Linked DNA regions of Homo sapiens: region 1 is reported to be linked to region 2. Evidence: microRNA targets listed by miRTarBase, many of them from high-throughput screens and not tested one by one. Region 2 holds a microRNA gene; the other region holds the end of a gene's coding sequence.
What was found. Region 2 holds the annotated microRNA hsa-miR-626 (AGCUGUCUGAAAAUGUCUU, at 2,865-2,883, shown strand). A microRNA usually pairs through its seed, bases 2 to 8, with sites in the 3' UTR of a target mRNA and lowers its output. Matches are read on the target gene's strand: a 7mer-m8 pairs with bases 2 to 8, a 7mer-A1 pairs with bases 2 to 7 and ends in A, and an 8mer does both.

Region 1: miRTarBase lists CDK2AP1 as a target of hsa-miR-626. Seed matches in the 3' UTR shown: 7mer-A1 at 2,399-2,405.

The regions. Positions count from the first base shown.
Region 1 is chr12:123,258,926-123,261,925 of GRCh38, forward strand. CDK2AP1 (cyclin dependent kinase 2 associated protein 1) reads right to left here. Exons shown (of 4, transcript NM_004642.4): 4 at 2,051-2,878. The coding sequence ends at 2,811. Among named protein-coding and RNA genes, the nearest start is that of CDK2AP1, 11 kb to the right of the region's middle.
Region 2 is chr15:41,688,781-41,693,505 of GRCh38, forward strand. MIR626 (microRNA 626) reads left to right here and starts at 2,805; the gene lies at 2,805-2,898. The region is part of intron 2 of MGA (MAX dimerization protein MGA); the gene reads left to right.

The DNA.
Region 1 (3,000 bases), not on the chromosome of region 2:
ACGCCCTGTAGAAAATAAAGGCTCTAGAACAACACCTAAGAAACCAGTAAGAGTGGGAGGGGAAATTTGGAGCTGGAGATAAGGGAGAATGGTTTCCGTTTGTCTCCTCTCTCATACCTTTGCAACTTTCTGCCACATGCAGGAAGGGGACACAGCACCCATTTCGCTAGAGCCTGTTCCTGCTGGCCTTCAGCCTTGTCATGGCTGAGAATTCGCCTCATGCCTGCATCAAAGAAAGACAAGTCTCTCTCATTTGTCTTTGTCTACTGCTCAGCAAAGCAAATTCTCATTGCAGGTATTTAGGGCCTAAGGTATAGAGTAAGAATTAAAATCCCTTTGGGAGGCACTGTCAGAGACCACCACGTGGACTCTCAACACATCCAGTGCAGCCCATTTTTTCCCTGGCACCAGAGCAGATAATTCTTCCAGTGAGCACCATATGAAGTAGCTTGAAGTTAGGAGCCGTACTTTATGAAAAAGATTCCTGTAGCACCCACCAAAAGCCCACAGGATAAGCACCTACGAACTGAGAATGGCCTAACCATGGGGTAACAGGCCAACTCAATAATACTGCTTCTGGCCGGGCGTGGTGGCTCACGCCTGTAAACCCAGCACTTTGGGAGGCCAAGGCGGCTGGGTCACCTGAGGTCAGAAGTTGGAGACCAGCCTGACCAACATGGTAAAATCCCATCTCTACTAAAAATACAAAAATTAGCTGGGTGTGGTGGCACGCTCCTGTAATCCAGCTACTCGGGAGGCTAAGCTGGGAAAATCGCTTGAACCTGGGAGGCAGAGATTGCAGTGAACCAACATCAAGCCACTGCACTCTAGCCTAGGCAACAGAGGGAGATTCCATCTAAAAAAAAAAAAATTTTTTTTTTAAAAACTGCTGCTGCTATTTTTTTTTCCTAGCATACACTTAAGTTTGCTGCACTTAAAATACACCCATAATGCAACTTCACTTTATCCCTACCTCTGACTTAGCAAACACATTCTTTCCCCAGCCAACTGTGCTAATGATATCACCAAAATGTTTCCGTGTCAGATGGGAAAATACAGTTTGAACAGGCATCTCCTACCTCTTGTAAAAGGTAAAGTAGAGGTTCCTCTCCAAAGACTTTCCTCCCCATTTAATTTGGAATAAACGGTAACTTCTCTTCGAAGCAAAATTTATTCAAAGACCTGTGCTAACATTCCTAATTATCTGCTAGCCGTGGTAAAGAAATCAATGTACTTTATGTTCTTAGCTCCCACAATTTAGCCTAAATATTTGTCCTGGCATGCTTACACTGGTCGGAGCAAGCATTAGGTCATAGCCTGTTCCTCTTCCTTATTTAAAAGTGTTTACCTTTCTCACCATTCCACAAGTTACTTTCTCCTTCCTTTGTTCTCTTCTGCCTTCGCCTCTTTTAAAAAGTTTTAAGTTGCTTCCCAATCAGGACAAATACAGAATATGAGGTCCCGTTCCAGCCAATGGAAACCGGACACAGCAGTAGGGTGGACGCATCAGGTTACAAATGACCCTGTCTCTTTGTTCGGTGTACTCTCGTGGCAAAACTGCTGGCGAATGTACCCTTTCTGCGGGAAGTAAAAATGGCCTTGCTGAGTAAATTAAATTTATGTTCAAGTGCTATTTCTTCACGGCACCGGGGAACAAGCATTTCAAACACTTTCATGAGAGATTATTTAAAATAGCACTTCTTTACACCAGGCGTGGTAGCTCACACCTATAATCCCAGTACTTTGAGAGGCTAAGGTGGAAGGATCACTTGAGCCCAGGATCCAGCCTAGGCAACATAGTGAGACCTCATCTCTGCAAAAAAAATTTTTTTTCCATCACACACCCATTCATTCAATACAAAAAGTCTTTTAAAAATTATTCAGGCATAGTGGCACACACCTGTAGTTCCAGCCACTAGGGAGGCTGAGATGGGAGGATTGCTTGAGCCCAGGAGGTTGAGGCTGCGGTGAGCCAAGATTATATTACTGCACTCCAGCCTGGGTGGCAAAACAAGACCCTGTCTCAAAAAAATAAAACAGCACGTAAGAATTCAAGGAACCCACATTTTAATACAAATTGTTAATGAAAATAAGCTTTATTACATCAAGTAATAAATACATACAAAGATGCAAACAGTTTTAGTCATTTTCTTCCAGATGTTTTTATCAACTTACAATAAACGCAGAACTGAGATCTACTTACAGTCTTAGTATGAAAGTGTTCGGGGGTCCTTGTTAGGTTTGGTGGGTTGCTCTTTCTTCTGTATTTATAACTTGTGCATTTTTAAAAATTGACTTTGAAGCACTAATAGTCATGCAAATGCTTAAGCAAAAAAGAAGTTACATTAAGCAGAACCTACATTGTATGGCAAATGGGAACCGGCTACTAAGTAAAGCGTGCTGTCAATATGCGTTCAAAACAAAATCCCTACAGTGGTATTAGCTTATGAAAAGGAACAAAGAACACCATGGGTAACAAATGTATACAAAAGAGAAGATTAAAGGGAGACAATGGTGTCTTGGAGGCAAACTACAGTTTGCTGTAAGATAACTTTCCGTGCATCTTTTAAATCAATGCTTAAAAAACAAAAAAAACCTGGGCAGTTCCTAACTACTTAAAATGCAAATCCTAATTAACTGCAAAATCTTTTCTCAATCTTTGAGACTGTAGGTTCAGAGCCAAGTGAACCATGGGAGGAAAAACGAAACTGTAACCATTTTGAAAACAAGGGTTTCATCTGAACAGGGGAGATGAACTGTAACTTCTCATCTTGTAAAAAGATGGAAATCCTTCAAAACCAACAAGGCAGCTAGGATCTGGCATTCCGTTCCGTTTCTGCCAAGCACTCCCGAACCAGTCCTCTAGCGTGAATGATGCCTGAAACAGAGGCAGAGACCTGAGGTCAGCAAGTGCACAGGACCAGCCAGCAAAGCCCATTCTGAAACAGCAAGAGGATCCATCCTTCCACAGCCTGTCCACAAAACCCTCAGACATAAAGA
Region 2 (4,725 bases):
TAGATTGGCTGGCTTAAGCAACAGAAGTTTTATTTTTTTCACAGTTCTGGAGGCTAGAAAGTCCAAGATCAAAGTTCTGGCAGGGTTTGGTTTCTCATGTCTCATCTTGGCTTGTATACATATATAGCTGCTTTCTTATTATGTCCACACATGGGGGGAGCGGGGGATGTCTCTCTTCCTCTTCTTATAAGCCCACCATCCTGTTGGATTAGAGTCCTACCCTTAAAACCTCTTTTAACCCTAATTTTCTCCTAAAGCCCTGTTTGGGCTTCCACATACAAATTTGGTGGGGGACACAATTCAGTATATAGCAGTGTTATATGGATTACAATGTGCATCCTTAATTTATTGAATATAATTTGAATAATGAACTGCTAATGCACTTATATTTGATGTCCTTCTATGTGATATAAGCCTCTAAACCTTGTTACTTTATTTGCTTTAAACAGTCAGTAGTTGGTGTGTACCCTCTCCCTCTCTCTGTGGCTCGCTCTCATCCTCTCTTGCCTTCCCTTACCCTCTCTCCCTCTTCCTTTCTCTCCCTACCTCTCTCCCTCTCTTCTCCCTCCTCCTTCCTCCCTTCCTTTCTCCCTTTCTCCTTCTCTCCTTTTCTTTCTCTCTCCCTCTCTTTCTCCTCTTTCCCTCTCTCCTTCTCTCCTTAAAAATAAAAAAAGTCAGTAGTCATTTAAATAATATAAGAAAAGTCTTTTATATTTACGTATTTATTTATTTGTTTTCATCTGTTTCTGGATCTGTGTTTATTTTGGTTCATTTTCTTTTTCTTTTTTTTTTTTCTTTTTTTTGAGATAGAGTCTCACTCTGTCACCCAGGCTGGAGTGCAGTGATGTGATCTCAGCTCACTGCAACCTCTGCCTACCAGGTTCAGGTGATTTTCCTGCTTTAGCCTCCTGAGTAGCTGGGACTACAGGTATGCACCACCACACCCGACTAATTTTTGTATTTTTAGTAGAGACAGGGTTTTGCCATGTAGGCCAGGCTGGTCTTGAACTCCTGGCCTCAAGTGATCTGTCCACCTCAGCCTCAGCCACCACACCTGGCCCATATTGTTTCATTTTCTAACAGTCTGAAGAACTTCCTTTAATAGTTATTTTTTAAAAACTTTAAAAATTGAGATATAATTCACATACAATAAAATCTACATAAAATTCACCTACCAACTGAAAGTGTAGAGTTCAATGGTTTTTAATATATTCACAGGATTGCACAACCGTTACTTCAGTGCTGCAGTCAGTTTTAGGACATTACCAGCACCCCAGAAAGAAAACCCATTAAAAGTAACTTCCCATTTTCCCTCAACCACTCCCCAGCTCCACCCAATCCAACACAACCACCTGTCTCTGTCTCTGTAGATTTGCCTATTTTGGATATTTTATATAAATGGAATCATTTAATATGTGGTCTTTTGTGCCTGGCTTGTTTTACTTAGCTTGATGTTTTTAAGGTTCATCCATGTGTAGCATGTATCTGTACTTCGTTTCTTTTTATTGTCAAATAATATTGTGTGGACATTACCACATTTTTTTTATTCATCAGTTGGACAGTAAGGTTTTTAGTTTTTGGCTGTTACGAATAATGTTGCTGTGAACATTTGTATACAAGTCTTTGCGTGAACACAGTTTTTTGGTGTTGAAAAGACCATTCTTTCCTCTCTTGAATTGTCTTGGCACCTTGGCAATTGAATCAGTTGACATAAATGTGGGCATTTATTTCTGGACTCTCAATTCTGTTAGTTGATCTGTATATCTAGTCTTAATGTCAATATCACACTGTTGACTGGGCACGGTGGATCATGCTTAAAATCTCAGCACTTTGGGAGGCCAAGGCAGTAGGATAGCTTGAGCCCAGGAGTTTGAGACCAGCCTGGTCAACATGGTGAAACCCTGTCTCTACTAAAGAGAACCTGTCTCTACAAAAAAATAAAAATAATAGCTGAGTGGTGTGGTGGTATGTGTCTGTAGTCCCAGCTACTCGAGAGGCTAAAGTGGGAGGATCACTTGTTTCCAGGAATTTGAGGTTGCAGTGAGGTATGATTGCACCATTGCACTCTAGCCTAGGTGACACAGTGGGACCTTGTCTCAAAACCAAACCAAACTAATAGACACACTGTCTTAATTACTGTAGCTTTGTACTAAGCTGAAACCTGGAAGTGTGAGTCCTCTGAGAACTTTGTTTCTAATTTTCAAGATTGCTTTGTTTTTTTTTTTTTTTTTTGGTGGCTCCCTTGCATTTTCTTGTGAATTTTAGGGTCAGTTTGTCCCTTTCTGAAAAAAAAAATCACAGATGGAGTTTTGGTAGATACTGCATTGAATTTGTAGATCACTTTAGGGATTATTGCTGTTTTACCAATATGAAATATTTTTTGTCCATAAACGTGGGATATTTTTCTATTTATTTTGGTCTTTAATTTGTTTCAACAGTGTTTTATAGTTTTCCATGTATAAGTCTTAAACTTCTTTTGTTAAATTTATTCCTAAATATTTTATTCTTGTTGATGCTATTGTAAAATGGAATTACTTCCTCATTTCACTTTTGACATTCATTGCTAGTTTGTAGAAAAACAATTTGTGTGTGTGTGTGTCTTGGATCCTGGAATCTTGCTAAACTGATTTATTAGTTCTAATAGTTTTTTAGTGGATTCTTTAGTATTTTCCATATACAAGATCATTTACCTGTGAATAGAGATAGTTTTGCTTTTTCCTCTACAATCTGGATGCCTTTTATTTCTTTTTCTTGCCTAATCATCCTGATAGAATCTCTAGTACAAGTAAGTAGACGTGGCAAGAACTGATATATTTGTCTTATTTGAGAGCTGAGGAGTATTTTTATGCAATCTGAATGATCTCAGCTGTCTGAAAATGTCTTCAATTTTAAAGGCTTCTTTTGGTAGGTATAGAACATTAGTTTTTCTTTCAACACTTCATGATTGGCGGTAAAGTATATTGTCTTCTGACTTACATAGTTTCCATTGAGTCACTAGTCAGTCTGTTGTTCTCTTTGTTGTTCCTCCAGTGTAATGTCTGTTTTTCCCTCTGCTGCTTTCAGTATTTTTCTCTTCATCTTTCATTTTCAGCAGCCTGACCTTGATGTGCCTAGATATGACTTTTTTTTTTTCCTTCTATTCGTCCCCATTGTTGCTTACTGAGCTTCTTGGATCTGTGGGTTAAAATCTTTTGCTTTTGGAAGATTTTTGTTCATTTTCTCTTCAAGTATTTCTTCACTTTGTTTCTCTTGTCTTTTTGGCAGGGCAGTTACTAGTATGTTAGATCATTTTATGTTGTCCCAGAGATCTCTGACACTTTTTTGTTTTGTTTTGTTTTGTTTGTTTCTCTGTCCTTCAGTCTAGGTGATTTCAAGTGGCTTCCTATTTTAGTAAATTTCAGCTCACCTCTCGTTTCAGCTGTGTCAAGGGAGGAGTGGTTGGTCTCCTATCCCTGGCAGGACCTTAGGACCTAAGCATTGGTAGACTACATGTTCTCTTATTTCCAGGCCAGCCTTTCTGCGGCACTGCTGTTTGTTCTGCAGAAGTCCTCTGGAGGGGGTGGTAATTGGACAGCAGTGAGGACTAGTTTCCTATTTGGGGTCCTCGAGATTCTGCCCATGCTCGGGCATTAAAAGTTGGTTTCTCTGTGTTTTTGCAAAGATCCTTTGCCTATAGTTGCTTTTTTCTCTCCTTACTGTATCTTCACACAGTGCAAATGCTGCTTAGGGTTGAAAGCAGTAGCTATCTCCGGTCACCTAGAGAAGGCTGATCTTCTTCTGTAATTCACTTCATTTAGGCTTATTTATGTCTAGAGGTCTTCAGTATCTTGTAAGAAAAATAATTTAGTGTTTTCTCATGGTTATGGCAAAAGTGATGATATTTTGTGATCTTCCACATTCTAACTGGAGGTGGAAATCTTCCATTGGAGGATTTCCTTTTTCTTTTTTTGAGACGGAGTCTCACTCTGTCACCCAGGCTGGAGTGCAGTGGTGCGATCTTGGCTCACTGCAACCTCTGCCTCCTGGTTTCAAGCGATTTTCCAGCCTCAGCCTCCCGAGTAGCTGGGATTACAGGTGTGTGCCACTGCATCCAGCTAATGTTTTGTATTTTTAGTAGAGACGGGGTTTTACCATGTTGAACTCCTGACCTCAGGTAGTCCACCTGCATCAGCCTCCCAAAGTGCTAGGATTATAGGCGTGAGCCACTGCGCCCAGCCAATTTTTTAAAAAATATTTTAGTACAGATGAGGTTTCACCATGTTGCCCCCAGAGTGGTCTCAAACTCCTGAGCTCAGGCAGTCTGCCTGCCTCGGCCTCCCAAAGTGTTAGGATTACAGGCACGAGCCACCACACCCGGCTTCTATTGGAGGATTTTCTTTTTTTTATTATTATTATACTTGAAGTTTTAGGGTACATGTGCACAATGTGCAGGTTAGTTACATATGTATACATGTGCCATGCTGGTGCACTGCACCCACTAACTCGTCATCTAGCATTAGGTATATCTCCCAATGCTATCCCTCCCCCCTCCCCCCACCCCACAACAGTCCCCAAAGTGTGATGTTCCCCTTTCTGTGTCCATGCGTTCTCATTGTTCAATTCCCACCTATGAGTGAGAATATGCGGTGTTTGGTTTTTCGTTCTTGTGATAGTTTACTGAGAATGATGATGGAGGATTTTCAAGTAAGGTTAAAATCTTAAGTAGAAATTGTGCAAGGAACAAGT